Linked DNA regions of Homo sapiens. The protein of the gene in region 1 interacts with the protein of each later gene in a pairwise test. Each region holds a gene or a part of one and is shown in the gene's direction. Other genes may lie near its edges.

Evidence for each region.
Region 2: the proteins of ZNF829 (region 1) and CHAT interact in binary tests that used the Homo sapiens proteins (3 or more experiments, as listed by UniProt).
Region 3: the proteins of ZNF829 (region 1) and DNAJB6 interact in binary tests that used the Homo sapiens proteins (3 or more experiments, as listed by UniProt).
Region 4: the proteins of ZNF829 (region 1) and ERN1 interact in binary tests that used the Homo sapiens proteins (3 or more experiments, as listed by UniProt).

Annotation. Positions count from the first base shown.
Region 1 is NC_000019.10:36,913,224-36,921,224, reverse strand, and holds the start of ZNF829 (zinc finger protein 829), read left to right. Parts: upstream 1-4,933; 5' UTR 4,934-5,214; exon of another isoform or gene 5,215-5,270; coding exon of another isoform or gene 5,271-5,429; intron 5,430-5,973; coding exon of another isoform or gene 5,974-6,057; coding exon 6,058-6,095; intron 6,096-6,202; coding exon 6,203-6,260; intron 6,261-8,001. UniProt on the Homo sapiens protein: May be involved in transcriptional regulation.
Region 2 is NC_000010.11:49,617,037-49,624,226, forward strand, and holds part of CHAT (choline O-acetyltransferase), read left to right. Parts: intron 1-2,688; coding exon 2,689-2,880; intron 2,881-3,458; coding exon 3,459-3,577; intron 3,578-5,060; coding exon 5,061-5,114; intron 5,115-7,190. UniProt on the Homo sapiens protein: Catalyzes the reversible synthesis of acetylcholine (ACh) from acetyl CoA and choline at cholinergic synapses.
Region 3 is NC_000007.14:157,360,912-157,368,101, forward strand, and holds part of DNAJB6 (dnaJ homolog subfamily B member 6), read left to right. Parts: intron 1-2,249; coding exon 2,250-2,359; intron 2,360-5,590; coding exon 5,591-5,650; intron 5,651-6,461; coding exon 6,462-6,572; intron 6,573-7,190. UniProt on the Homo sapiens protein: Has a stimulatory effect on the ATPase activity of HSP70 in a dose-dependent and time-dependent manner and hence acts as a co-chaperone of HSP70. Plays an indispensable role in the organization of KRT8/KRT18 filaments.
Region 4 is NC_000017.11:64,119,955-64,127,144, reverse strand, and holds part of ERN1 (serine/threonine-protein kinase/endoribonuclease IRE1 precursor), read left to right. Parts: intron 1-7,190. UniProt on the Homo sapiens protein: Serine/threonine-protein kinase and endoribonuclease that acts as a key sensor for the endoplasmic reticulum unfolded protein response (UPR).

The DNA of each region.
Region 1 (8,001 bases):
CTCTCAAAGTGCTGGGATTACAGGCATAAGCCACCATGCTTGGCCGACAGTGATCACTTTCTAACAAACTATTAATATATACAGTCACGCATCACTTTGCAACAGAGATATGCTCTGAGAAATGTGTCATTAGGCAATTTCATCATTGTGCAAATATAAGTGTACTTACACAAATGTGGATGGTATAGCCTACTACCCACCTATGCTATATGGTATAGCCTATTGCTCCTAGGCTACGAACCTGTATGGCATGTTACTGTACTGAATACTGTAGACAACTGCAATACAAAGGTAGGTGTTTGTATATCTAAACATACCTAAACACAGGAGAGAAATGGTAAAAATATAATATAAAAGATAAAAAATGGTACACTGGTAAAGGGCACTTACCATGAATGAAACTTGCAGAACTGGAAGTTGCTCTGAGTGAGTGGCGAGTGAACGCAAAGGCCTAGGACACTACTGTACACTACTGTAGACTTTATAAACACTGTACACTTAGGCTACACTAAATTTATAAAATTTTTATTTCTTCAAATTGTTGAATTAGCCTTAGCTTACTATAACTTTGTTACTTTATAAGCTTTTCATTTTTTTTTTTTTTTAGATGGAGTCTCACTCTGTCACCCAGGCTGGAGTAATGGCACCATCTTGGCTAACTGCAACCTAAGCCTCCTGGGTTCAAGTGATTCTCCTGCCTCAGCCTCCCAAGTAGCTGGGATTACAGGTGTCTGCCACCACACCCGGCTAATTTTTGTATTTTTAGTAGAGACGGGGTTTCACCATGTTGGTCAGCCTGGTCTCTAACTCTTGACCTCCTGTAATCCACCCGCCTCGGCCTCCCAAAGTGCTGGGATTATAGGGGTGAGCCACTGTGTCCAGCCAGCTTTTCAATTTTTTAAAACTTTTTGACTCTTGTAGTAGCACATAGCTTAAAATGCATTGTACAGCTGTACAAAAATATTTTTTCTTTATATCCTTATTCTATAAGCTATCTTCTTAAAAATTTTTTAACTTTTTAAACTTTCTTGTTAAAAATTAAGACACAAACACCCATTAGCCTAGGCCTACACAGTGTCCAGGATCATTGGTGCTGGCTTTCACCTCCACATCTGGCCCCACTGGAAGATCTTCAGGGACAATAACACACACAGAGCTATCACATTCTATGATAACAATGCCTTCTTCTGGAATACCTCCTGAAGGACCTGAGGCTGTTTTACAGTTAACTTTTTTTAAATAAATAGGCATATGCTCCAAAGTAATGATAAAAAGTATAGTATAGTAGGCACATGAACCAGTAACATATTTATTATCATTACCAAGTATTATGTACTGTACATAATTTTATGTTATACTTTTATATGACTGGCAGCAGAGTAGGTTTGTTTACAGCAGCATCACTGCAAACACATGAGTAATGGTATTGTGCTACAGTGTTATATTGGCTAGAAAGTCACTAGGTGACAGGAATTTTTCAGCTCCATTATAATCTTACAGCAGGGGTCCTCAACCCCTGGGCCACGTACCGGTACTGGTACAGTACTGGTTCCTGGTTAGGAACCAGGCCACACAGCAGGAAGTGAGCAGCAGGTGAGTGAGCATTACCGCCTGAGCTCCACCTTCTATCAGATTAGTGGTGGCATTACAGCCTTACAGGAGTGTGAACCCTCTTCTGAACTGTGCATGCGAGGGATATAGGTTGCTTGCTCCTTATAGGAATCTAATGCCTCATGATTTGAGGGACAACAGTTTCATCCTGAAACCATAACCCTCCCATCCCCCAGTCCCTGGAAAAATTGTCTTCCACAAAACCACTCCCTGGTGCCAAAAAGGCTGGGGACCACTGTCTTACAGGACCACTGTCATGTATGTATATAGTCCATACATATATGGCACATGACTATAATTTAGTTATATATACTGTCCACCCACCCCCCTCAACATAAACTCCATGAAAACAAGGACTTATTTTTGTCTGTTTTTGATATTCATAGTAGGTGCTCAAAAATATGCTGATAAAATGGTTCAGTCATTATCGAAAACACTATGACAATCAAAGATTAAAAACAGACATTACCACATGTATATATAAAAAACTGAAAGCAGGGACTCAGATAGTTGTATACCCATGTTTGTAGCAGTGTCACTTGCAATTGCCAAAAGGTAGAAGCAGCCCAAGTGTCCAATGATGAATAAATTGATAAACAAAATATTTATCCATATATGACATACTTATCATTCGGCCTTAAAAAAGGAGGAAATTCCAATACATGCTAACATGGATGAATCTTGAGGACGTTATGCTAAGTTAAATCAGGGTCACAAAAGCACAAACAACATATGATTCTGCTTATATGAAGTATTTAGAATAGTCAAATTCAGAGACAGAAAGTAGAATGGTAGATGCCATAGGCCGGGGGAAAGGGGGGTACAGAGTTATTGTTTGATAGGTACTGGGTTTCTGTTTTGCAAGAAGAAGAGTTCTCTGGCTGGATGGTGGTGACGGTACCATAACAATGTGAATGTACTTCATGCCACTGAACTGTACACTTATATATGGTTTAGATGGTAAATTCTATGTTGTGTATTTTACCACAATTAAATATACATGTGTGTATACATAGTTGGTCCTCCTTATCCACAGGTTCTGCATCCTCAGATTCAATCAGCCTCAGATAAAAAATACAGTTAGGCCTACTACAGTTGTGTCTGTACTGAACACGTACAGTACAGATTTTTTTCTCATTATTCCCTAAACAATAACGTGTAACAATGATTTACACAGCATTTACATTATATTAGGTATTACAAATAATCTAGAGATGATTTAATGTATAAAGAAGGATGTAGGGACTTGAGCATCTGTGGATTCTGGTATCCATGGGGGGTCTTGAAACCAACCCCTCCTGGATACGAACTGTATATAGAATAAATGAGCTACTACTACTAATTTGGGGATTTAAAACTAGAAGAGAATAGGCTGGGCATGGTGGCTTACGCCTGTAATCCCAGCACTTTGGGAGGCTGAGGTCGGCAAATCACGAGGTCAGGAGATCTACCATGGTGGCTAACATGGTGAAACCCTGTCTCTGCTAAAAATACAAAAAATCAGCCGGGCGTGGTGGCGCGTCTGTAGTCCCAGCTACTCGGGAGGCTGAGGCAGGAGAATCGCTTGAACTCGGGAGGCGGAGTTTGCAGTGAGCCGAGACCGTGCCACTGCACTCCAGCCTGGGTGACAGAGCGAGACTCCGTCTCAAAAAAACAAAACAAAACAACAACAACAACAAAAACTAGAAGAAAATAATATATGAGACAAGAATAACACAGAAATTGGTGGATATTTTGGAGTTCAAGTATTTTAAAGTCTTAAGGTTGAGTTTTGTTAAGCATGCATATTAAAAAAGGATAATAGCAGAAACCAACCTAGGGGAGAAAAAGGGATAAGGTGAATTTGCACAATAAAAAAAGATATATGTGCAACTATTATATGTCAATCAAAAATGTTTAAGGCGTAATAGAAAATAAAACATTTTTTATGAGCAATCATGATAAATGCCACTGAACTATACTCACCTATTAAAATAACAGTCAAACAAGATAAACGGATGTAAGCCCAGCAATATGCTCTTTACAAGACACAGATCTGAAACATAAAGACACAAGGGGGTTAGAAAATGAAATTCTTAAGAAATACAATAAAACTTGAAAAGCAATATTATCAGACAAAAGAGAACCCGGACTAAAAGGCATTCACCAGGATAAAGAGGTATGTTTCTTAAGGTGGTAGACTGGAATTTTAGTCCAATTCCTCACACCCTCTAATAGATTATTATTCATACTCTTTGCGAGGTAACTTTGCTCTCCAACTGTGGGCATAATTGATTTTAGGCTTAGCCATGTGACTTGCTCTGGTTGAGGCAATCTCTCTTGCGCTCTGGTGACCCATCAGGAGCAGAGCATGCCCTGGCAACAAATGTCCTTTTGGCCTGAGACCCTGAAAGAACACATGCGGCGCAGATCTTAACTCGTCACGCAGCCTATCCACTCAGCCAAGCCCCACCTAGATCAGCTGAACACAGTCAATGCGCAAGCCTGTGAACAGGAGAGTAAGGACTTGCTGTTGTATGGCATTGAGTTCAGGGGTGGTTTTTAGACATAATTATTATCATGGCAATAGCTAACTAACATACATAAAAGCAGCAAGTCATAAGATAATAATGAACCTGAAAAGTTCGCCAAGGAATAGTGGAAAATTACAAAGGGCCAAGGGCTACTAGGGTAAAAAAGACAGCAAAGAAGACTACAGAGGAGTGGCCAACAAGGAGGGAGGATCAGTAGAAAACAAATAAGTGTTTTTCAAGCCGTTACCAACTGTGCCAAATGCTACAGAAAAGCCAGCTCAAGACAAGAACTACTAGACATATTACAATCACGCACACTTCGCCACGTTCACACTCGCTACAGCCTTAATCATAATCACACACATATCACACATTTCATCATAATCCCGCGCAACCAAATATCACAATCACCCCATCAGATTATTCGTGCCGTCACACTCACACACACAACCACACACCCACACTAACTCCCATCACAGTTTTTTGTCCCATCAACTGCAACCACTCACCATTAGCGTACCCTGAGCACTCCCCACTGCCGCTACTCGGGACACTCTGGGCCTTAGAGGATCCGTGTCCCGTCAACCGCGAGTCCCTTGCTCGCCCCCTGCTGCGGGGACTCGGCAGCGTCACCTGCCGGAAACACCCGAATGTTCATCCCGCGCGCAGTTTCTGAGATGCTGGGTGAAGGCGACCCGCAGATAGGTCTGTGACAGACGCCTAAAGCGCCGAACCATCCCTCCGCGCCAGCGACGTTTCCGAGGACAACACCTCCCAGCAGGCCCCGCGGCCCCACTCAACTTCCGGCCAGAACACATCTGCTTTCCTGTGTGAGGGTGAGGCTTGGGCCGGGTTCCCCGGGAGGCTCATCTCCATTGCGCAGCGCTACGGCGACCCGCAACTCCGAGGCTCGGCTGGATGTTGAGAGTTGAGGGAGCAGCCGTTTCGGGTGGGCCCAGGCGAGGAGCTGACAGGAATCGGCGTGGGTCCCGCTCTGGACTACATTTCCCAGAGGGCCTGGTGGCCTGCCACTTTTCTCGCAGGAATTCGAACGTTTCGTCACTCCTGGCGGGACCCTTAGATCTGGGAGGTGAGATATTTTGGTCCCCAGGAGAACTGGCTCAGGTCTGCAAGTTCCCATCCGGGATGACTGGAAAGGGCTTAGGTGAGGATACCGAAGACCGATGGGGAGCTGGCGCCTTGGGCCCCTGCGGGCGGAGCGGCCTGAAAGGTGGAGGTTGTGTTTGGGAGGCCGAGGCAGGAGGATCACGAGGTCAAGAGATCGAGACCATCCTGGCCAACATGGTGAAACCCCATCTCTACTAAAAATACAAAAATTAGCTAGGCATGGTGGCGCGCGCCTGTAATCCCAGCTACTCGCAGGCTGAGGCAGGAGAATCACTTGAACCCGGGAGGCGGAGGTTGCAGTGAGCCGAGATCGCACCACTGCACTCCAGCCTGGCGACAGGGCAAGACTCTGTCCCCACCCCACCCCACCCCCCCAAAAAAAGAGGGGAGGTTGTGAAATTGTCTGGGAGATAATAACACTGCGGCTTATGTGCGGATATGGGATACCTGTCACTGTGGGGGTTGTGGCTGTGTGTTCCCGTGGTGATGTGTGATTGTGACTCTGCGACAGTGTGGGGTGCCTACGATTGTGCAGCTGTAATTGTGTGTTTCCTATGGTGTGTATGTGATTGTAACTGTGTTGCCGTGTGTGGCTCCTTGTGGGCAGGTGAGACGTGCATGTCGCCTTAAGTGTGACTGTCCCTAAATGTATGTGGCATTCTGTGTATGAGTATGGGGTCCTGTCAACTATGCGATTGTGACTCCAGAACTCTGTCTCTAGGAAACCTCTCTGAGGTCTGGTCAGATTCCAACCCTGGACAGCAGTGAACACAACCTTTCCCCTGAGCCACTGGAATTGGACAGAATGCCCCATTCTCCTCTGATCTCCATTCCTCATGTGTGGTGGGTAATGGGGCTGGGGAAGAACTCTTACTTGACTAATCTGGGTACCAAGAAAAACCTGGTGTCTCACAGTTACTCTTCCCTCTCCCAATTTTACCTTTCTCCAGGTGTCACCCAGAAGAGGAGGAAAGAATGCATGATGAACTTCTACAAGCAGTATCCAAGGTGTGTTGGGGTTTCCTCTTTTTCTTCTGAAAATTCTTGCTTAAAGGAATGTCATTTAATTATAGGTCCCTATAATTTTCCCATCACAGAAAAGGATGGTTGCTCCACTTATGCTTGCTGAATTTTCTTCTCAAATATTTATTCTGATTTAAAAATAAAAGGATGATTAATTTAGAGATCTCAAAAACACAGCATTACCAAGAAAAAATAAAATTTAGCCACTCAGATAACTAGGGTTAATATTTTAATGTATTTTCATTATTTGTCAAAAACCAAATTTTATTTCATTTACCATTTGATGTTCTACATTTTTGCAAAAAGAAGTGTCAGAAATATTCTCCCATGTCATCAAATGGTCTTGGGAAATACATTTTTGATGTTTGCAAAAACTATGATATACAAATCAGACATGCCAGACTTTTAAATCCTCATTTGAATATATATCTGTACTTATACCCGCCCACCCCCACAGGTTTGAATTTGGGTTTCCGTGATTAATAATAAAATTGAACATATTCCATATGTTTATTGGTTTTTAGTCATCTTTTGTGACATGTCAGTTCAAATCTTTACTCATTTTTCTCTTGGAATAGCTCTTATTGATTCGTATGAGTTATTTATGTAATCTGGATCTCAGTCCTTTATTGATTGTTTTCCTACTATTTGGACTATTTCATCATTTCCTGTAAGATGATTTTATGATAAGTTCTAATTTTTAAAAAGCTGAGTTTATCAATATTTTTTCTTTATGGTTAGTGCTTTTTGTATCTTTTTAAATAAATCCTTCCCTGTCCCAAGGTCATGCAGATACTCTCCTATATTTATGCTTAAAGCCATAAGTTTCACTTTCATGTTTAGATATTTTATATAGTTGCAACTGGTTTTTGTATATGTTATGAGGTAAGAGTCAGATTCCCCCCTCCTTATTAATACCCAGTTTATCAATACCATATATTGGAAGGTCTATTGTGTTCTCATTGGTCTTCAAATATACCTAGTGTCTATATGTGCATGGGTATGTTTATGAACTCTTTATTCTCTTCCACTGATTTTTTATATTCCTGTGCCAGTATCATACAGTCTTGATTAGCTCGTCTCCCTTGATGGTAATCTGCCTTGTCTTCCTCTGACTGTTTTGTTTTTGGCTTTCTGTAATTTTAGTGTAAGATATATAAATGTGTTTTATTTGTCTGCTTGGGATTTGTAGAGTTTTAAAATTTATGGATGGATATCTATTATTAGTTCAGGAAAATCTTCAGTCATTATACCTTCAAAAAGCCCCCGTATCATTCTCTCCCCCTTTCCTTCTCAGGTTCTAACTAAACATATGTTAGAATTTCTTCTTCTTTTCTGTGTCTTATCTCTTTTTGGTTTTTAGAGTTGATACTTATAGCTGAAATCAAAGCAAACAAAAGAACCTTGCCTCATCTCAGGAGGGGGCAGTGGGCATGGCAGGCAATTACAGAGTTTTTGGATTCTTCCTCCAAGTAATAATAAAAATATCTTTATTCAGTTTGTGTTTCAACACTTCTAATCTTGGGGAACTCACTAAATTGTAAGGTTATCCATTCACCAGGTAATCATTTTATCTGAAAATTAGAGGATACATACTAGGATAGAGGACTCAGAATAGTGACAATGTTTTCTCAAGGTGTAAATTTGGAACTCTGAGTGGGCCTACTCTCAATTTTTAAATTGTATGTGTTTGGTACAGATGCAGAGAAAATCAGGATAAGAATAA
Region 2 (7,190 bases), on another chromosome or scaffold:
GAGACAATGCCATCCTCCCTGGGCAGGCATCCTCCCTCCCGCCCCAGCCAGCCTTCGGGTGGCAGAGCAACACACCTGACTTCAGGTGGTTGCATGTGTTTCCCCTCTCCCACACTTGTCTTTTTGCCACTCCTCTTCCCCCTTCCCCCTTCCCCTTTCCCCCAGCCCTCATTTGAAACCCTGAGCAGAATTTTCTGGCTTCTCCCCAAGAAGCTGTTCACTCCATTGCCCTGAATTCTGCAGCTGACAAACATCTATTGTCACCTCTGGTCCACTGGCATGCTTCTCTACCCACCCCATTGGGCTGTGGCTTCCTTCAGAGCAGGCTCTGTTTCTCCATCGTCTCTGAGTCCAGCCCAGGATCTGACTCACATGAACTGCCCAGGAAACATGGAGTTTTGGAGCATTGATCTGAGACTCCCAGGTCCAAAGACACTCCTTAGCACAGGGCCAGAAGTCCAGGAGAGTCTGGGGAGGATCCCTGGGGGGTTGAGATGTCTGAGCTGCGATTTCCTGCTTTATTCCTTTTTACCCACTGCTGATTCCCTGTTAGCCAGGCTAAGTCACAGCGCACTGTCAGAGCCTGGAAGAAGGGGAGCAGTGTCTGGCAGAGGATCTAGCCAGACTTGTGGGCCCTTTTGGCCAGGTCACTAACTGGGCTGGGCTTTCTGTAGGTGCTCACCCACCCATCACACAGACCACCCCCCCCACCGCAAGAGATGGAAGAACAAGATCAGCTGGGTTGGGGGCCCAGACCTGGCTCACTGGGGTTGGGCAGGGCAGTCTGGGATGCTGTCCAGATCCATCCTCGCATCATTCCCCAGGGCAGGAGCAGCCCGTAGTTGGCACTGACACCCCACTGTTGCCAGAGAAGTGAACCCTAGAGGCAGGATCAGACAGGCAGAGGGCCGTCATTCATCCATCAGCAGCAGGGGCAGAGAAGGAGGTGCTTTTAAGGGGCCCATTCACTCTGCAGCCTATGGGGAGGAACCCTTTACTGTCTCATGGAAACTCATCACTGCACAAAGAAGCCCCTGAAGGAAGGTGCCTCACTGTCTACCAGTGTGTCCCAGGAACCATATTGCAGAATTCTGGTCATTAGGGCAGCAATGAATTATGTCTCTTATCCAAAGCCATCTTTTATCCTTCCAAATCTCTCCACAAGAGTACACCCTTCAGGTCCGGAGATCAGCTAGATTCTGGAGCCCCAGCTGAGAACAGTTTATAAATTAAGACTGACCAGGAGACAACAATATCAATAACAGGACTATTTCATCTTAGATCTATCCTTTATGGCTTAAAAGCACTTTCACGTACATTAGCTCTTTAATCCTATGAAAGGCAGGGTTTGCTACCCCCATTTTACAGGAGAAGAAACTGTACAATTTAAGCAATATTATTATAAGTTCTGCCTTCCTATTGTCACTGGCCAAGTGAGGGACAAGAAGAGGAAACGAATGGAAAAGGGAGTGAAAGGGAAGGGAGAGAACGACCCAGGAGAAAGAAGCAGAGTGGACATGGAAGACTGATTTTAGCTCCTAGTCTGCCATCAGATTTGTATGTGACCTTGGACCAGCTGCTCCACTCTCTGGGACTCAGTTTCCTCATTCATAAATGGGAAGTCACAAAATTGAAGCCACACAGAAGCCTTCTGTGGTGAACGCTGCTGGTGAACTGAGAGGCACAGCATGCGTATAGAAGGGTGGAGTTGGGGGTTCTTCCTAGACTCTAGCCACACTTTGGGGCCCCCAAAGAATATGGGTTTCCTCTTGGGAATTCCTCTGGAAGTATAAGATAGCGAGGTCATAACATTTTAGATGTGCCTATTTGAGGCCAGTTGTTCCCCCATTTAATTCTCTCTGTGTTCCTCTCAGGTAGGAATTGTTATTTATGTCCTATGGATGAGGAGCAGAGGCTTGGAGAGATTCGGAGAGGAAGGACATCCACTGCATCCCCACCCCTGCCCCTAACACCCACATGAAACAAAATTCCCTGCCTGGGTTTTATAAGTAGGAGGGACTTATAAGAAGCTCAGGGCATGAATCATCTTCTGAGGAACCCTCTTTTAGAATTCTAGTCATTAGGGCAGCACTGAATTATGTCTCTCATCCAAAACCATCTTTTATCCTTCCAAATCTCTCCCTAAGAGTGCCCCCTTCAGGTCCAGAGATCAATCAGATTCTGGAGCCCCAGCTGGGAACAATCTCTAAATTAAGAGTCACCAGCAGCCAACAATATCAATAACAGGACTATTTCATCTTAGATCCATCCTTTATGGCTTAAAAGCACTTTCATATCTATTTTCTGTTTGATCCTATGAGAGATAGGGGTTACTACTCCCATTCTACAGAGGAAGAAACTGAGGCACAGAGGGAGGCTGATTTGCCCAAGTTTGCAGAGCTGGTCAGTGGCAGGGTCAGGGTAGAAACCCAGGTCTGTCTGATGCCAATATCACCGTATTTTCCTCTGCACTTTATCCCTTTCTGGGGACAGAGCACAATGAGGTCAGGGACGCCAAACAGGAACTTCCTAAATTCATAATTTTGCTGAGCTGAGCCCTAGAAATGGAGGGGTCCCAGGGTAGAGAACAACACAGGGGCAGAACAATACAGATACTAGGGACCAACTTGGGGACAGGCATGGGGCGCACATACTAGAGGCACAATGCCTATGAACCCTTTCTTCCAGGGGCTGCCCAAACTGCCCGTGCCCCCGCTGCAGCAGACCCTGGCCACGTACCTGCAGTGCATGCGACACTTGGTGTCTGAGGAGCAGTTCAGGAAGAGCCAGGCCATTGTGCAGCAGTTTGGGGCCCCTGGTGGCCTCGGCGAGACCCTGCAGCAGAAACTCCTGGAGCGGCAGGAGAAGACAGCCAACTGGGTAAGAGGGGCAGACAAGGAACCCATAGAAGAGGGGCGGGAGGCAGACCTGGAGACAGAGGGATCTCGGTGAGAGGCAGGTAGGGGACAAAGACAGGGCAGAAGGAGAGATGAGGGACAGGGATGGGGGATAGGTGTGGGAACAGGCAGGTGGCATGGATTGGAGGACAGGAAGGGACAAGGATGAGAAACAAACAAGATGAGGAATGGGAAATACGGATAGAGAAAGAGGCGGACAAATCGGGGACAGGAATTGGGACAGATGAGGACAGAGATCGCATTAGGAAAGAAGAGAGGGTGAAAGGCAGGAAGAAGACACCTGTAAGGACAGGCAGAGGACAGCGATGTAGCACCAAGCCACCAGGATGGGGACTGGGACAGAAGAAAGGAGACAGGAGGGCACAAAGGTGAAGGACAGGCCTGGTGGACTGGGAAGCTCCTGGCACATACCTGGGGCTTAGCATATATTTGTGGAATGAATGAATTAATGCTCTGGTGAAGTGTCCCGATTTTCTCTCGGGGCTGTCAGGATGGGACTGTTTGGGGGGATGTGACGGCCTTCCCTGCCCTCCCCGGCAGGTGTCTGAGTACTGGCTGAATGACATGTATCTCAACAACCGCCTGGCCCTGCCTGTCAACTCCAGCCCTGCCGTGATCTTTGCTCGGCAGCACTTCCCTGGCACCGATGACCAGCTGAGGTGAGGCCTTGGTGCTCCTAGCTCATAACCTGGGGACCCACCCAAGGCAGGGGCCCTTACCCCAGTGCCAGCAAAGAAAGGCCAAAGCTGGAGCCTCGGCTGAGCTTCCTGGGGTCAAATGCCCCGAGACAGTGGACGTCCAGGCCATCAGGTGGGGAGCAAGGTTAGGTGTGGCTGCACTCGAGTGACAATCACACAATTAGCCTTAGTCTATATTTATCTTGCAGTGGAATGGACACTCATGGAGGTCATGGGTCCAAATATCCCCACAGCCTCCACCTGGCTGAGGCCCTGGGAGGAGGCGTGTGTCCCTGGACCACGCCAGTACTTGTCCCTGGGAAACACTGCCCCAGGCTGTCTGAGAGGGCCTCTGCTTCCTTCCAGAGCCCCCAGCTCTAAACAGAGGCCCCAGAAGGCTGGAAACAATTCCTCCCTGCCAGCAGCCAGAGCCTGTGCCATCTGCTGTAATTTCAGAGCTCACTGAGCCGTTGGAAGGGCCTCTGGCCGCTAATGACAATGGAGGATGGGTGCAGGGAGAAAGGGTTTCCCTTCTGGAGTCACTCAGAGTCTGGTCTTAAGACCTGAGTGGGGCAAATGGTGGGGACGGTTTAGAGGGAGGGCAGACCAAAGTGGCCCGAGGACAAGAGGCAGGGCCCACCTCTCCTCTGGGCAGGGCTTAGCCATGCTAGGAAGACCTCCCCACCCCACCCTACCAGCTGGCCAGCCTTCCCTCCCACTGTAGCTGGGGTCTCCCCAGGGAAGAAGGAAGGTGTGGACAGATGAATGACTTCTGAAAACAGTTCTCACAATTGCATCTGAGGGGGTATTTTCCTCCTGGTGCAATTAAGCCAGGCCCAGAATCCTGGTATGACAGTTCCCGCTGCTCGTTTCTCCAGTGCCTTTCCCCAAGCACTCGATTTCCTTTTCATTAGTACCGGGGGGTGGGAGGAAAGGGACCAAATTACTGGCTTTTCCCAGGAGAAAATTTTCCACAAGGCCAGGGGTCCTGCCCTGTCCAGACCCAGGGCTGGCTTTTCCAAGGAAGAACTCCACCCTTCACCCTCCACCCCTTCTGGCCTGCTCTGTGGCCTCTCCTAGCTTCCGTCTCCCTCTCTGCTCCCTCTCCTCTTCAAGATGATTCCAGTTTCCTCTCCCTTCCCCAAGAGCTACTCGACCCCCAGTTCTCACCAAAGGACCATTTTGAATCCAAGGCTTGTGGTGGGCTCTCGGCATGGGGCTGGGGGGCAAGAACCACATCTGATTAGTGCAGGAACCACATCTGATTAGTGCACACGGGGGCGGCATACAATGGGCGATCACAGAGTTTGGCAGTGGGGATGAGGGAGGGAGGAGGGAGGGAGAAGGGAGGGAAGAGGAAGGAGATGGAAGGAAGAGGGAAGGAGGGAGGGGAGGCAGAAGGGAGGGAGGGAGGGAGGAAGCCAGGCCCTGGGAGGAAGGGCTCAGGCCTCCCTTCTCCCTGCAGGTTTGCAGCCAGCCTCATCTCTGGTGTACTCAGCTACAAGGCCCTGCTGGACAGGTAGGACTGGGAGGGTGGTGCCCTGTTCCAGCACAGTCTGCCTATGCGTCTATCTCCCTTGCAGGGACCTTGTCTTTTTCCAGCTCTGTATTCCCATTCCTGGCTCCTGGCACAGAGCAGATGTCCCTGCCCCAACCCACTCCCCCACCATCAGGATGACCTTTAGCCTGGCTGGCCTGTCTGTTAACTGTTCCTTTTCCTGTGGCAAGCACCATCCTTCCTTGATCTTTTAAAAATGTCTCCTCCCTCCACACATACGTGCACAGGTGGAGTGAATTCACTTGAAGCTGGAGAACACATAGGAAGGCGGGGAAGGAAGAGTTGTTAGAGTAAGGTGATGGGAGTTCTGCTTTGCCACTTGGAGGAATGGTGTCTCCAGCGGGAGACTGTATCCTCAATCCCACCAAGCTCAGTGGACATGAGGCTGTTCTGACAGATGGAGAGGGCTGCTCAAGCACCGCAGGCTCTCTTTGATTTTAGGAAGAAAGTCCCTCTCCTGGCCAAGCTTAGGAGAGCAGGAGGGTGTCTGAGAGCAGCAGGGAGAGTAAGCGGGTCTGGAGGACCCAAGTCTCTCAAGGTAGAGACTATAAGGGCATTAGAAGCTGGAAGGAGAGAGAGAGGCCCAAAGAAGCATCCCTTGCACAGATGAGGAAGCTGCAGCTCAGAGAGGTTAAGTAACTCATCCATGGTTACACAGCCAGGTGGTGGCAGAGCAAGGAGGGGGCAAGGGGCAAACTTCACTCTTTGTTCAACTTGACTCAATTCAGTCTTTACCCAGCCTTGGGACAGAGGCTCAGACCCACAGCCCCTTCCAGGGTAGGGCTGTTCCCTCTGGAGAGGGGCAGGCAGAGCTCCCAGACTGTCAGGGTGGAGCAGTTCAGGCTGTCCAGGGCATTCTGCACCACACGCTCCTGTGTGCTCTGCTCACTCCTCTCTAAATGCCATGGGTCACTAGGCCCTGGGCTGTTGTCTCCTCATGGTGTGTCTTTGGTCTCTCCCTTCTTCGTGGACAGCATTCTATTTCCTCCCAGAACTCGCCCCTCCAGCTCACCGTCCTGTCTGTTTTCAAACACCATTGTCTTGCTGGGCCTGGGGACTTGGTGCCCATTCATCACTGACTGCCCCCACGAGACCACTTTCCTTCTGATCCCAGACTTTCACATGTGTGTGCACACTCACACAGACACGAATACCCATGCATATCCACGTGGAGGTTCCCATGTCCAATGATTGAAAAGGACTTAAGACTGGAACATTTTCCTGAGTGCCTGTTTTGAACCTTTAATTAATTAATTAATTAATTTACTTATTCACTTTGCAATGTAGTTATGCTGGGAAGAGGAAGAGAAATAAGGCCTCATCCTCCCCTCAAAATGTCCTTAGACTATTGGGCAAGACAGTCACTTAAACAGACACAAAATACAGCTGTGTCCCTTCCCCTGAGTCCCACACTCGCTCATCCAAGCCTCAGCCATCCCCACCGGGGTGTCTCTCAGTCATTACAAATGAGCCAGGAGAGCTTCGCCTCTCCCTCCCCATTCCCCAACTCCTCCCATACCTTGTCGAGCCATGTCCGTAAGTGCACCAGCACATGCCCTGTTGGTGAGTCTGGGAACCTAGAAGTCACCTGTGCTTGTTCTGCTTTCTCCCTTGCACCTTCATGTAACCCATGGTGCTCAGATGTGGTCATTCTCCCTCCCCACTGTGTCCCCAAGCTCCCTCCTCCTTCCCTGCTGCCCTCACAAGACATCACGTTCCTTCTCTGCCACAACCTCCTTCCTTGTTCTTCCTGTGACACCTTTCAGTCCATTCTCCCCATATAAGCAGGGTCAGTAAAACAACAAAATGGAAACCCAGTCATGCCCCTGCGTGCTAAAGCCTCCCAAGGGCTTTCACTGCACCAAGAATAAGGCGATAGCTCCTCTCCACTGCCACTGGAGCCCCACAGGACCTGGCCTGCCCACCTCTCTGGCCCTGTCTTCACTGGGCCTCAGCCCCACTGGCTTCTCTCTGCCTTTGATCAGTGCTTCTCAAGCTGCCTCTGGGGAAGAACCAATATATTTTCTTTCATTTTGT
Region 3 (7,190 bases), on another chromosome or scaffold:
GGCACTGTTTACACTTGCATATCGTGTTGTATTACACCTTGATTTTTAAATATTTTAGTAGTGTATGACTGGGGCATACACAGTTGAATCTTGTCCTGCATTCTCATCCATTGCCAAGTTTTCATATGAACACTAGATGATAGGTAGTACTGCACACTAATCATTTTTTCTCTTTTGTCTTTTGTATGGTCTGTTATTTTTGACTGAGGATTTCTGGCACATTTAGGGTTATTTGATCCACTGCTACACGTTTTTTTTTTTTTTTGAGACGGTGTCTCGCTATGTCACCCAGGCTGGAGTTCAATGGCGTGATCTCGGCTCACTGCAACCTCTGCCTCCCAGGTTCAGGCGATTCTCCTGCCTTAGCCTCCCGAGTAGGTGGAACTGCAGGCGCCTGCCATGATGCCCAGCTAATTTTTATATTTTTAATAGAGACGGGGTTTCACCATGTTGGCCAGGATGGTCTCGATCTCTTGACCTCGTGATCTGCCTGCCTCAGCCTCCCAAAGTGCTGAGATTACAGGCATGAGCCACTGCGCCCGGCTGCTACATGTTTGTTTAGGTCCACAGTGACATAAATTACTGTTAAGTATTCTGGACTCCAGCTTTAATCAGATTTTAGTATGGTTAAGCCAAGGTTTTGTTGAACATGTTGTAAGTTAAATTGAGCCACAACAGCTTTACAGTAATAACTTGCCTAGTGTTAAAAGCACTGTCAGATTAGTATACTAGTCTGAAATTTTGAGGGGTATGCTGCTTCTCTTTTTTAACGTTACCCTCCTTTTGAATATATGCTGCTTAGGTTTTGCTAATTAGACTAGAGGATTTTTTTGTATTCATTCATTCATTCATTCATTCATTCATGCATTCATGTTGAGCCGGAGGCTCGCTCTGTCACCTAGCCTGGAGTTCAGTGGCACGATGTTGGCTCACTGCAACCTCTTTCTCCTGGGTTCAAGCAATTCTTCTGTCTCAGCCTCCTGAGTAGCTGGGATTACAGGTGCGTGCCTTCATGTCCGGCTTTTTGTATTTTTAGTAGAGATGGGGTTTTGCCATGTTGGCCAGGTTGGTCTCGAACTCCTGACCTCAGGTGATCCACCCACCTCGGCCTGCCAGAGTGCTGGGATTACAGGTGTGAGCCGCTGCACCCGGCCTTTTTTTTTGTATTTAAATAGCGTGCAATTATTTGGTCAGTTGGAACTCTGCAACAGAATATGACCTTGGTCATAGAATCTTTGTAGAAGTCAGTGTTTTAACTCTGTTTAGATCTTGAATCTGGCACAGAGGGTGTTTGAAAGATTCTGAGATCCTGGCCTGTTGGGTGGCAGGTGATTCACCTTTGGCACACAGATGAGCTAGGTAGTGGGGCTGGCTGAGGAAGTAGGGTCCTGGGAATCAGAACATGGAAGGATATGAATGGTGATGTTGGATCTTGCTGCTCAGTGACCCAGGCCTTTTTTTCCCTTTTTAAAAATTTTTTGAGACGGAGTTTCGCTCTTGTTGCCCAGGCTGGAGTGCAATGGTGCGATCTCGGCTCACCACAACCTCTGCCTCCCAGGTTCCAGTGATTCTCCTGCCGCAGCCTCCTGAGTAGCTGGGATTACAGTCAAGTACCACAATGCCCGGCTAATTTTGTATTTTTAGTAGCGTTGGGGTTTCTCCATGTTGGCCAGGCTGGTCTCGAACTTCTGACCTCAGGTGATCTGCCCACCTCCCAAAGTGCTGGGATTACAGGCATGAGCCACCACGCCTGGCCTTTCTCCTTTACTTCACATACTTGCTCAGTCTTGTCACTGTCAGTCCACGTTGTGGACACTGTGATCTTTATTTTTCTATCTCTAGAGGTTCGTTTGTATTATGCTATCAGGATTTTTATTCTAAAACTTACTTTAATGAGTATTTTTACAATTTTAATTTTGAGACAGTCTTGTTCTGTCGCCCAGGCTGGACTGCAGTGGTGTGATCATAGCTCACTGTAGCCTTGAACTCCTGGCCTCAAGCAGTTGTCACGCCTCAGCCTCTGGAGTAGCTGGGTCTATCTGTGGCTGCACGCCACTACGCCTGGCTATCTGGATTTTAGAACTTTGTGTATTTCATTGTAGAGGAAAGGGAGGTTTTACAGTTAAAACCAGTATTCATCTCACCAGTTGGCAGCTCTGAAGCCATTCTCGTGGTTAATGATGTTAGTTTCAAAAGCATAGTTGATTTCTGGATTTAGAATGTGATCTATATCCTTTATTCTTTCCAAGATATCGGAAACTGGCACTGAAGTGGCATCCAGATAAAAATCCTGAGAATAAAGAAGAAGCAGAGAGAAAATTCAAGCAAGTAGCGGAGGCATATGAAGTGCTGTCGGATGGTGAGTGACAGCGAGCTGCTGAAGGACCCTGAGCGGGCATGCCGGAATGCGGAGTGGGTGTTGGGATCCTCCTCAGGGTAGCACAGTATGGACTCAAGTGACTTGTTTTTGATGCCTACTGGATTTTGGGCCCTTCTAAGAGATTTTTACTTTTCTCGTGAAGATTTGAATTGATTTAGGTAACCACGAGTGCTGGGGAGCTCCAGGGCTTCTAGTAGTTTCTCCTAGGATGGCTGTTTTAAAAGCGGGACTAGACATCCTGGGTTTGAGGAACCTGGGAGAGAGGAGGTTGCGGGACTCAGGTCACTGTGCATGTGGCGTGCTTGCCCCCGTTGTGTGTGATCATTCTGACCTTGCTCACCCCCACTGGCTTAAACAATACCATTCCAGTGGAGTCAGCTTTACTGCTTGAGAGGATGTCATTAGTTCCCAAAAAGAGGGGATGGAACATACAGCTAAAATTTAGATTTCCAGTTTCAGGCCTGTTTTCCCCTCCTAGGTCTGGAGCAGAGGTGTTCTATGTTACTGGAAGTCAGATCCATTGGCCTAGTTCACAAATGGGTGAGGGGTCAGAGGTCAGCTGTCGCCTAGATGCAGTCAGGGTTCCATGGGGGAAGTAAAGGCTGTGCATGGGGCCTGGGGTGGGGGAACAGTGACAGAACTGGAAAGCCACACAGTGCCCCTGTCTGCTGCAGTGCTGGGTGGCCTGTTGTGAGCAAAGGCCGAGGCTTTTCCAAGGTTAGGGATGGACTAACTGAACCCTGGAAGTGGGCACTTGGTTAAGTGTATCTGCATGTGGTCAGGTAATTGGCCCTTATTTACAACAAAAAAAATTTTTTTTTTTTTTAAAGAACCCAATTTGAGGCAGAGGTTGCAGTGAGCCGAGATTGCGCCACTGCACTCCAGCCTGGGCGACAGTGCGAGACTGTCTCCAAAAAACAAAACAAAACCAAACCAATCAGAAGGAACCCAGTGTAAGCTTGCCACCTTCAACAGCTACCAGCACACCACCAGCCTTGCTTTCTCTGGTGACACTGTGGCCCACCCCCTTTGTTTTAGAGGAAATTCCAAACATTTTACTTCAAAAAATATGAAAAGACATAAAAACACCGATATTTGAAGTCTTCTTGAAATGTGGCATTTAAGGTCTTGAACTGTTGAGCTTATTCATTGGAAAGTTTATTTTTTTTAAAGAGAGAGGATCTTGCTATGTTTCCTAGGGAGGCCTTGAACTCCTGGGTTGAGGTGATCGTCCTCTCTCCTCAAGTTCCAAGCACCATTGCGCCAGGCTTGTTCCCTTAGATTTGTGCGCTGGGAGTGACAGAGGAGGGCACAGGCCTCAGTGTTACCATCTTGGTCTTCGGTCCTTGTTGTTTGTGTGCTAATTCAGTATTGCCAGATTCAGGATTTTAGGGACTAGTAACATTAGGAAAAGTGAGGGCCAAAATGAAGCTTCATATTTGATAGAGCAGCTTTAAACTACCACACTGAAAAGTCGCTTGGTTCTTTTGGGAGGTGTATGAGGTGTGTTTTTCATGTCCTTTTAGGCAGCCTTCAGTGCCAGCTGGAGTTGTCTTCAAAACATGGTCATTGTTCTTGCCATGGCACTGGCTACCTGAAACTGCTTGCAAGTGGTTTGTTTCTAAGCTCGTTTTCCCATTTTGTGGAATGTGAGATTTTCTTCTACTTTTTAAAAATTGAGAAGGGGTCTCACTCTGTTGCCCAGGCTGGAATGTAGTGGCATGATCACAGTTCGCTGCAGTCTTGACCTCCCAGGCTCAAGCGATTCTCCCATCTCGGCTTCCTGAGTAACTGGGACCACGGGTGGGTGCCACTGTGCCCAGCTAACTTTTTTGTATTGTGTTTAAAGGTGGGATTTTGCCGTGTTGCCCAGGCTGGTCTTGAACTCCTGGGCTTAAGTGATCCACCTTCCTTGCCCACGCAAAGTGTTGGGATTATAGGCGTTAGCCACTGCATCCAGCCTATGAGATTTTTTGAGGAACGCAGATGGTGTCATGTCAGAAGTACCAGTGCTTCTAATGTCATTGTTTTTGTTCTGGGATATAAGTAGCATTTGGAATGTAAGTGTGAAGACTGTCAGTGGAGAGGGGCACACTAGCCCCAGGCCTTGCATCCGGGTGGTCCACTTCGAGGGTGAATGAGCCTGTAGGGTGTTAGGTTGGCGCCTTTCTGGCACATCTGCTTTCTCCCACTTGCCTAGGCCCTGGCATGTTTGTTTTCGTGCTGCAGATATGGTCCTCTAATTGGGTTTTTGTAGTAAGATGGTGCACTTCTGTGGTTGCAATAATCTTGTACTTGGTCGTGTGATTTTAATGTAGCATGTCTGGGCTCTGTGCAGTAGAGTGAAAGAAACGATCTAATGGAATAAAGAAAAAAATTTTTTTTTGCTTTTGAGATGGAGTTTTGCTCGTTGCCCAGGCTTGAGTGCAATGGTGCAATCTGGGCTCACTGCAACTTCTGCCTCCTGGGTTCAAGCGATTCTCCTGCTTCAGTCCCCTGAGTAGCTGGGATCACAGGCATGCGCCACCATGCCTGGCTAATTTTGTATTTTTAGTAGAGACTGGGTTTCTCCGTGTTGGCCAGGCTGCTCTCGAACTCCTGACCTCAGGTGATCGGCCCTTCTCGGCCTCTGAAAGTGCTGGGATTACAGGTATGAGCTACCTCGCGTGGCTAAGTCCCCCCCGCGCCTACTCTTGTTGCCCAGGCTGGAGTGCAATGGCACGATCTTGGCTCACCACAAACTCCGCCTCCCGGGTTCCAGCTATTCTCTTGCCTCAGCCTCCTGAGTAGCTGGGATTACAAGTGCCTGCCACCACGCCTGGCTAATTATTGTATTTTTACAAGAGATGAGGTTTCACCATATTGGCCAGGCTGGTCTCAAACTCCTGACCTCAGGTGATCTGCCCACCTTGGCCTCCCAAAGTGGTGGGATTACAGGTGTGAGCCACCATGCCTGGCCGTAAATACTTAAATATTTCTAATAACTTGTAAAAATTCAACATACTGAATTTTTTTTGAATTGTTTTTCAGGAGAGAGGTACAGAAAGTTTTCCCTGTTGCTTTGTTTTGTTTTAAAGAAAAGGTGGCCATACTCCTTGAAATTCAGTTGTAAAACATCGAAAACTGATTTACAACTGGGGAAATACCTTATCTATTGAATTAAGGGTTTAAAAGGAACTTGGCCTTACCGACTTTTCTTTCAATTTTTAGCTAAGAAACGGGACATCTATGACAAATATGGCAAAGAAGGATTAAATGGTGGAGGAGGAGGTAAGTACGTGAGTTTTTTCTTTGAAGACAAAAGGTCTTGGCAAGTAAGTTGAGTTTGTAAATCACGAGTCTCTTGGTCAGAGTCGATTTTGTATCAGTAAATAGAGATGCAACGTAGAAAGCGAACTAAATTGGGGAGAGGACAGAGAAATTGATGGCATTTAAAAGTCTTTTACGAGACTAGAAGTATATGTTGATGTATTTTTTATAGATAGAAACAATTTGTAACCATACTGCAATATATTGTGAACATATACCCTTAGATCAGCACTTGACGTTATGTCAAAATATCCTAAGGGTTTAAAGAGCAGATTTTCCTGAAAAGCTAAAATAATGACTTTGAAGGGCGTGGACTTTGTCCCCAAAAGTTCCCACGGTCACTGGGCTGTGACCAGCCTCCCCAGGGGTGTTGGGAAATTATTGCTCCAAACCCACTGGGGCCACGCGGCAGCTTCTGTGGCTCCAGGAGGCCAGTCGTCGAAGTGGATGCAGATACTCTTGGTCTTCATAAACCTTCATAACAAATCATAAAAATGGTGTGTAATGTTACATGTTATATGCCGATCACGGATTTAGAGATGGTGAAAAGTAGTGTCGAAGGGGCCACTGCTGCACTCATATGCCATCAGCGCTGGGCACACTCACTCTCTGTCAGTACAGGGCTCATGTTTTGAATTATAGAGAACTTCAGGTTTATGAAATATTTTTGTTTTTATTAGTTCATGATTTGTATAATGTTTTGTCAACAAAGAATTCTTTGCCTACAAAGCACCAAAATTCATAAACTAAAAGCTGTGTTGTATTTGTGCAGGTGGAAGTCATTTTGACAGTCCATTTGAATTTGGCTTCACATTCCGTAACCCAGATGATGTCTTCAGGGAATTTTTTGGTGGAAGGGACCCATTTTCATTTGACTTCTTTGGTAAGTTAATCACGTGGGTTGACTTGGTGTGTGTCCATGACCCAAATGAGGGCTTACTTAGTATGGCCTTTCTGTTGAATTAACATTGTATTTTAGGCTGGGCGCGGTGGCTCATGCCTGTAATCCCAGCACTTTGGGAGCCTGAGGCGGGCAGATCACCTGAGGTTGGGAGTTCAAGACCAGCCTGACCAACATGGAGAAGCCACGTCTCTATTAAAATACAAAATTAGCCGGGCATGGTGGCGCATGCCTGTAATCCCAGCTACTTGGGAGGCTGAGGCAGGAGAATCACTTGAACCCGGGAGGCAGAGGTTGCGGTGAACTGAGATCATGCCATTGCATTGTTGTCTGGGCAACAAGAGTGAAACTCCTGTCTCAAAAAAAAAAAAGTTAACATTGTATTTTGTCACGAAACTTTGTGTTTAAAGCAGCATTGGACTAGCCTGAACAACATGGTGAAACCCTGTCTCAACAACAACAAAAAAAATACTAAAAATTAGCTGAGTGTGGTGGCGTGTGCCTGTGGTCCCAGCTACTTGGGAGGCTGAGGTGGGAGGATTTCCTTGAGCCTGGGAGGTTGAGATTGGGCCACTGCACTCCAGCTTGGGTGACAGAGCA
Region 4 (7,190 bases), on another chromosome or scaffold:
ACATTGGTATTATTAAGCACTTGAGGCTGTCTTTTGTTAATCCAGAATGTGCTTATTTAGTCAGTGAGTTTTTCCTTTCTTCCTAGACCTATATCTTGCTCCTAGAGTTGGTTAGGGTTACATCATCACTGTCAGCAGTCCTCATTTTATGGTTATTTAGGTGCCACATCTCTCAATTACCAAAGAGATCAGTACAATGTGAGGCAAAGTACCTTTTTTTTTAAAAGCTATAAGATATCAGATTTCTTTCATTTAGCCAATATTTTGGTTTTAGAGGGAGGTTTTTAAAAAGTCACCGAGAACTGAGGATCATGTGTGTATAGAAACACTGTAATCTGATAGATGAGTCTTAACTAGCAATGTCTTTGCTTATCATTTATTCTGACAGTGATCACCTGCATTAATTATCCTAATAGGCGATATCAAGTGTTTATACTGAGGCCATAAGTAGAATGTTCATTGAGTTTGTTATCAGGGCTGCTGATCATGAAATTAAACTGTAGTTGTGCACATGTGTATTGTTTCATTAACTTGCCTGCCTATTCAGCCTTCTGCAGTAATGTAGCTTCTCAGAGCACAGGAGAAAAATGTATCTGAGAGTTATTCGAGAGAGAGTTCAACAATAGCCCATATTTCCGAACATAAATCTAGTGAGCCGCATTAAAGTTTCTTCATGTCTGGATGGAATAGTGTCACTTGCATAGGTCTGAGGGTTTCATTATTTGCCTGCCCCAGATTTGGACTCCGTTTTTCAGGTGAAAGAATCCTTGGATAACTGTTTCATTTTCATAGGAAACCTCTTTGGTTTCGGGATCCAAAGTAATATGTAGGTTCAATATTTTGTAGGTTTTATAATCAAATGTCTCCCTAAAGAGATGACATAGGGAAGAAAAGCCTAATGTATCATCTTAATGGATTCAGTTTTTATTATGCACAAATAACTGGGCTTGTAACCTAGGAATATGATTAGAGCGTGATGCTGGCTTAAAAAATAGGACTGGTGAATCACAGTTTGTGAATAATAAACTACTGGTTGGAAATATTTCCCAGAAGCAGTTTTTTTTTTCCTTTCTATCTTTACCTATATCCCATGTTTGGTTTCAAACTTCCCTGCCTTAGAGCAACACAGCTGGTTTTAGACAGTCTTTCTATCAATATCTTATAATCTTTGCTCATGTACAAACATACAGCAAATACAACGGTATAAAAATACGATGTTATCTATTTTTGTTCACTTTTTCCCCACAGAACATCTTCTGTAACCCGGTAGAAAATGTTCTGAGTACACCATCACATTTGTCACTTTAGTAGCACCTTAGTAAACCATCATCCATGTAAAAAAACATTGAGCTTCTCAGCCGGGCTTGGTGGTTTGCGCCTGTAATCCCAGCACTTTAGGAGGCCAAGGCGGGTGAATCACTTGAGGTCAGGCGTTCGAGAGCAGCCTGGCCAACATGGCAAAACTCCGTCTGTACTAAAAATACAAAAATTAGCTGGGCAAGGTGGCATGCACCTGTAATCCCAGCTACTCGGGAGGCCGAGGCAGGAGAATCGCTTGAACCTGGGAGGTAGAGGTTGCAGTGAGCTGAGATCACACCACTGCACTGCAGCCTTGGCAACAGAGCGAGACTCTGTCTCAAAAAGAAAAACAAAAAACAAAAAACATTGAGCTTCTGTGCCCAGCCGTGGGTTGGGGACTGGGGTTATAACTGATCAGGGTTGATGTGGTAATAAGCCGAGCTTTGCCTGCCAGTCATCTTGCTGTGGCCATAGGGATCATAAAGAAAGGGGTATTTTCATTTTTTCAATTATTTTATGTTTGGTGCTTTCTGTATGATAACAGGGGAAGATATTTTTTTTTGAGGCATTATCTCAAAGTAATCATATTCATTGTAGAAAAGTTAGAAAGGATAGATAAGCCTAAATTAAAAAATAAAAAACAAGCCTTCTATTATCTTATTTTCCAAACATTACCTCTATGAAGATTTTAAACAATTTTATTGAGATATAATTCACCTATCATCACAATTCACCCATTTAAAGTGTACAATTCGGTGGGTTTTAGTATATTGACAGAATTCTGCAGTCATCACCACAGTCCATTTTAGAACATTTTCATCATCCCAGAAATAAACTTCATACCTATTAGCTGTTACACACCGTTTCCCCCCAAACCTCCTAGTCCTTGGCAACCACAAATCTACTTTCTGTCTATAAATTTGCCTATTCTGGACCTCTTATATAAATGGAATCATACATTATGTGGTCTTTTGTAACTGGCCTCTTTAACTTAGCATCATGTTCTCAAGGTTCATCCATGTTGTATAATAACATGTGTCAGTACTTTGTTCCTTTTTATTGCTGAATAATATTCCATTATATGAATATACCACATTTTATTTATCCATTGTATTAGTCCATTTTCATGCTGCTGATAAAGACATACCCGAGACTGGGCAATTTACAAAAGAAGTAGGTTTAATGGACTTACAGTTCCACGTGGCTGGGGAGGCCTCACAATCATGAAAAAAGGTAAGGAGGAGCAAGTCACATCTTACGTTGATGGCAGCAGGGAAAGAGAGAGCTTGTGCAGGGAGCTTCCCATTTTTAATACCATCAAATCTCGTGAGACTTATTCACTATCACAAGAACAGCACGGGAAAGACCCATCCCCATGATTCAGTTGTCTCCCACGGGGTCCCTCCAACAGCACATGGGAATAGTGGGAGCTACAAGATGAGATTTGGGTGGGGACACAGAGCCAAACCATATCATCCATCCATTGAGGGACATTTGGATTGTTTCTGCTTTGGGACTATTAATAATTCTGCCATGAACATTTGTGTACAAATTTTTGCGTGGACATTTATTTTCACTCTTCTTGGGCATATATCTAGGAAAGAGATTGTTGGGTCATATGGTAACTCTTTGTTTAACCTTTCAAGGAACTGTCTGACTGTTTTCCAAGGCAGCTGCACTATTTTACATTCCCACCTGCAATGTAGGAAGGAGGGTTACAGTGTCTCTTATACCCTCACTGATACTCGTTATTACCTATCTTTTTAATCTTAGCCATCCTGGTGGATGTGGAGTGGTAACTCATTATAGCTTTGATTTGCATTTCTCTAATAACTAATCTAATATCTTGACATATGTTCTTTCAGATGCTTTTTCTGTGCACATATTTACAGGTAATACTTTTCTTCCCCACACTGGAACATATAGATCTATGTCAATCAGCTTAATTCTGCAACATTATTCTTAATTGGCTGCGTAGTATTTCTCTGAATGGAATGGATGTACCATAATTTGACCACTCAATCATTTAGATATTGAGGCTGTTTTTATTTTTTTTTATTTTTTCACTACACAGATATGTTTTTATTTTCATTATAAAAATTATAACAATGTAATGAACTTTCTTGTTGCTAAACTCTTGAATGAGTTTTAAGTGCTTAGTTATTTCCTGGAGATAGATTCCTAGAATTGAAATTTGCTGATTGTATGTAGTATTTTACAGCCCTCTCCCCCAGCCCTAAGCAATGTTGAGTGTTTTAAAAACAAAACTAACCTTAAATTGTTTTTATGATAGGCGGTTTAAAGTATGCTATTTTCTTTTATCAGTGGCCACTTTCTTTTAGGAGCGTAGACTTTAAAAGTTGGATGAAAATAGAATGTTTACATTTTGTTTATATTTTGAAGATGTAAATAAACCAAGGCAGTCTCTGGATGATACCCTTTGTACCTAAAAGCTATTGAGAAAATGTTTTATTTGGATTTGTTAAATGACTCATTTGTGGGGTCCTTTAGTTTGCAGTGGTTTCAGATCAACTTTCTAGGAGATGTGGCACCCATGAGCACCCTGAAATACCTCGGGATAATTCTCTGGTTTTGAGGGTGGCCCGCCTCCTACAGATAAGATTCTTTGTATGGTCGGTTGTGAGGCCATTTAAAACTTTTGCCTTAAGACTTCATAAATCAGAGTTGATACATTGATTGTCCCTTTTGGAGGCTGCAGTTCTTAAAACATGTGGCTGTTTTTCCTAGGAATATTTAAGTACCACTTGATAATAAAGTACTACCTTTTGCTGGGATTATCTACCTGGAAAAAAAAAGGGAACAAAAAATTAAAAATAAAATGTAATATCTGTGGTGTTTTATTTTTTGTTTTGTTTTGCTTTTCCTGCAAATTTATTCTTCCAAAAAAAATGTCCCTTTCAAAATAATCACCCTTTGGCGTGAATTTACGGGTTATTGAAATCAGTCTTAAAAAAATTTCCAGTTAAATTTAACAACTTATCTAACCCATTTAATAATTCAACTTTAAAACAAAAACGAACCTTTGAAAACAAATATTTACTCTTAAGCCAGTTATCCTTATACAAGTTAAAACATTCTCCAATTCCTTCCAGTCTTTGCTTAATAGGACTTTTACATGATTCACACTACACTTTTGATCAAAATTGTTATTACCCAGTTTGATCACACAATTTATTGAGGACACTTGGATTTGGTTTTCAGCTATTTATTAAAATGAAATCCATCCTAAAGTGAACAGGATTTTTACCATTTAGGGGATTCAAAAGTATATTCTTTGAAGGGAATTTCCAAAGAATTCCAGAAATATTTTGAGCCCTAGAAGCATGTATGAATAGATGTGTAGCCTCCCAAGATAACTGGAATCAGAGTGCATTAGACTGCTTGATGGGCTCTCGGCCATGTAGTCCAATGAGTCTCAATTTTTTCCCCTTCCAGCTGCACATAAGAAATATGGCGCACATCCCTCAGTAACAGTATGAGCACATCAGAACCTAGGAGGGTGGTGTTTGGGGCACCCTCTCTCAGGCATTACCCTCCTCTCCCAAGCTGAGAAAAATTACTACCCTGCTCTGTCTTCCAGAGCAGACAGATGGGAAAAGGCAACCAGCAAGGGCTGGTAACCTGTCCAGGGTCATGTGTGAGTGGCAGAACCAAACCTTAAACTTGATCCTCCTACCTCCCTTTGAAGAGAAGCCCCTGCAGTGCTTATGTTCTGGTGCGTATGTTGGGACAAACCAGTCTGGCTACCCTCAGTCATACCCTGAGGAGCTGACCAAACTATGTGGCCATGAGAGAAGGATCTAGAGAAGGTCTAGGCCAGTAGGCTTTCTTGTAAGCTTCAGGAAAATACCCAGATAATGTTATTTTTCCTCCGTTAAGAATCATGGCCTTCTACCCTTTGTTGCAGTTGTGCGAAGATGCCATTTTGAGATGGGAATGCTGCCTTCACCTGAGAGTCTCCATCAAGGAAATTGGCCATTTTCAACTGTAGAGTCAAATCCAGCAATCATGGAGAGAGTAGGGATTAAAAGCCTGCTCGGCTGGGCACAGTGGCTCACGCCTGTAATTCCAGCACTTCAGGAAGCTGAGGCGGGCGGATCATAAGGTCAGGAGTTCAAGACCAGCCTGGCCAACATGGTGAAACCCCATCTCTACAAAAATACAAAAATTAGCCAGGCATGGTGGCGGGCACCTGTAATCCCAGCTACTCATGAGGCTGAGGCAGAAGAATCGCTTGAACCTGGGAGGCGGAGGTTGCAGTGAGCTGAGATCCTGCCATTGCACTCCAGCCTGGGCAACAGAGACTCCGTCTCAACAACAACAACAAAAAATTGCCTGCTAAGCCTAATTCACAGTTTAAGCTAATTTCTTTGCTTGGAGTCTAATAATATCCAAGCAGGTGCATGTTTTCAGTAACATCTCGCCTAGTCATATGTCTGAAAGAACAAAACTGAAAGTTCTTTCCTTAGAGGCCTTTAACCCAAGCCGCTCTTCTCTAGCTCAGTCACAGCCTTCACCAAGAAGTCCTGAAAAGATAGAACTCTTGCATTACCGTGCTGGTTCTGGGTGTTTGCCTTTGCAGAGGCGCCACCTGCCAAGCAGTTCTGGCACCAGGGAGCAGGTCTGTGATGACAGGAGAGAGACAGTGGCTGTGACTCTGGCTCTTAAACCACAATGGAGGGATTCAAGTTAGCTTAGGTAGCTCTCAGAGGAGACTAATGAGGGAAGGAAGGAGCAAGGGGGGAAGGAAGGTGCCCCTGGGAGTGTGTCTCACTTCCCTTGCTGGTTCATCCGAGAAGGCAGGGACCCTGGCTTGCTGATGGTTGCATCCTCTGTGGCATTTAACGTGGCATGCTGGTTATACCCACTGTAGGGGGCACTCAGCAAATATTTATTGAATTCTTCTTTGAGACTCATTAAGACCAATAAAGGGGCTGTATTATATCATCAAGCAAGTGGGTTGTGGATGGGGGTGGGAGGTATTGCTTCAGCTATATTTTATATTCTTTAATGGGATTGCACCAGTTGTGTGTCTTTCTACAGAACTAGAGGAGCTTTCAGGATATTTGCTTGGGTGGACGTGACCCATAGTGTGTAGTGTTCTTTTGGTGGGCTCTTCTTATCAGTAATGAGATTAATTTTTCCATTGCCAAACTCCATGAGGTAAACAGTTTGTGATTATTTCATGTCAGTTTCATTTTTCACTCAGCATGATGTTTCACTGTTAAAAAAATGAACCTTGGCCCAGAGTTGTCCTCTCATGTATTAAACATGACTTCCTTTGTTAGTAGACTAATTTATAATTATAATTCAAAACCATCCCATTCTCCAGTGGATTATTTCCCCCCTCTCTGTCAGATGAAGGAATAATTGTTTGTCTGGGCTGCAGGAGTGTCTGTCATGGAAACCGAATTTTTCTGTACATTCTCTGAACAAACAGTGCTGTCACATCCCTAGAACCTGACATTGTCATTGATCTCCAGTTGAGTCAGAGAAGTTTGTTGACCAAGGTAAATCAGATCTCTCTTCTCTTAAAGCAAATGGCCCATGACTCCTGAGGGGCCACTAGGAGTGAGAGAATCACCTGTACAGGGGGCCACAACTGTGGCTAGGAATGTGTTACTTGAGGCGGTGCTTCCCAGCCATGACTCAGTCACCTGGGGAGCTTTTTAAAAACGCTGTGCTGGGGCCCCATCCTATGTGAATGAAATTGGAATCTCTGGGAGTGGGGGCCGGCATCTTTTCTTTTTTAAAAAAAAAATGTTTAAGGCCAGGCTCAGTGGCTTACACCTGTAATCCCAGCACTTTGGGAGGCCAAGACAAGAGGATCACTTGAAGTCAGGAGTTTGAGACCAGACTGGGCAACAATG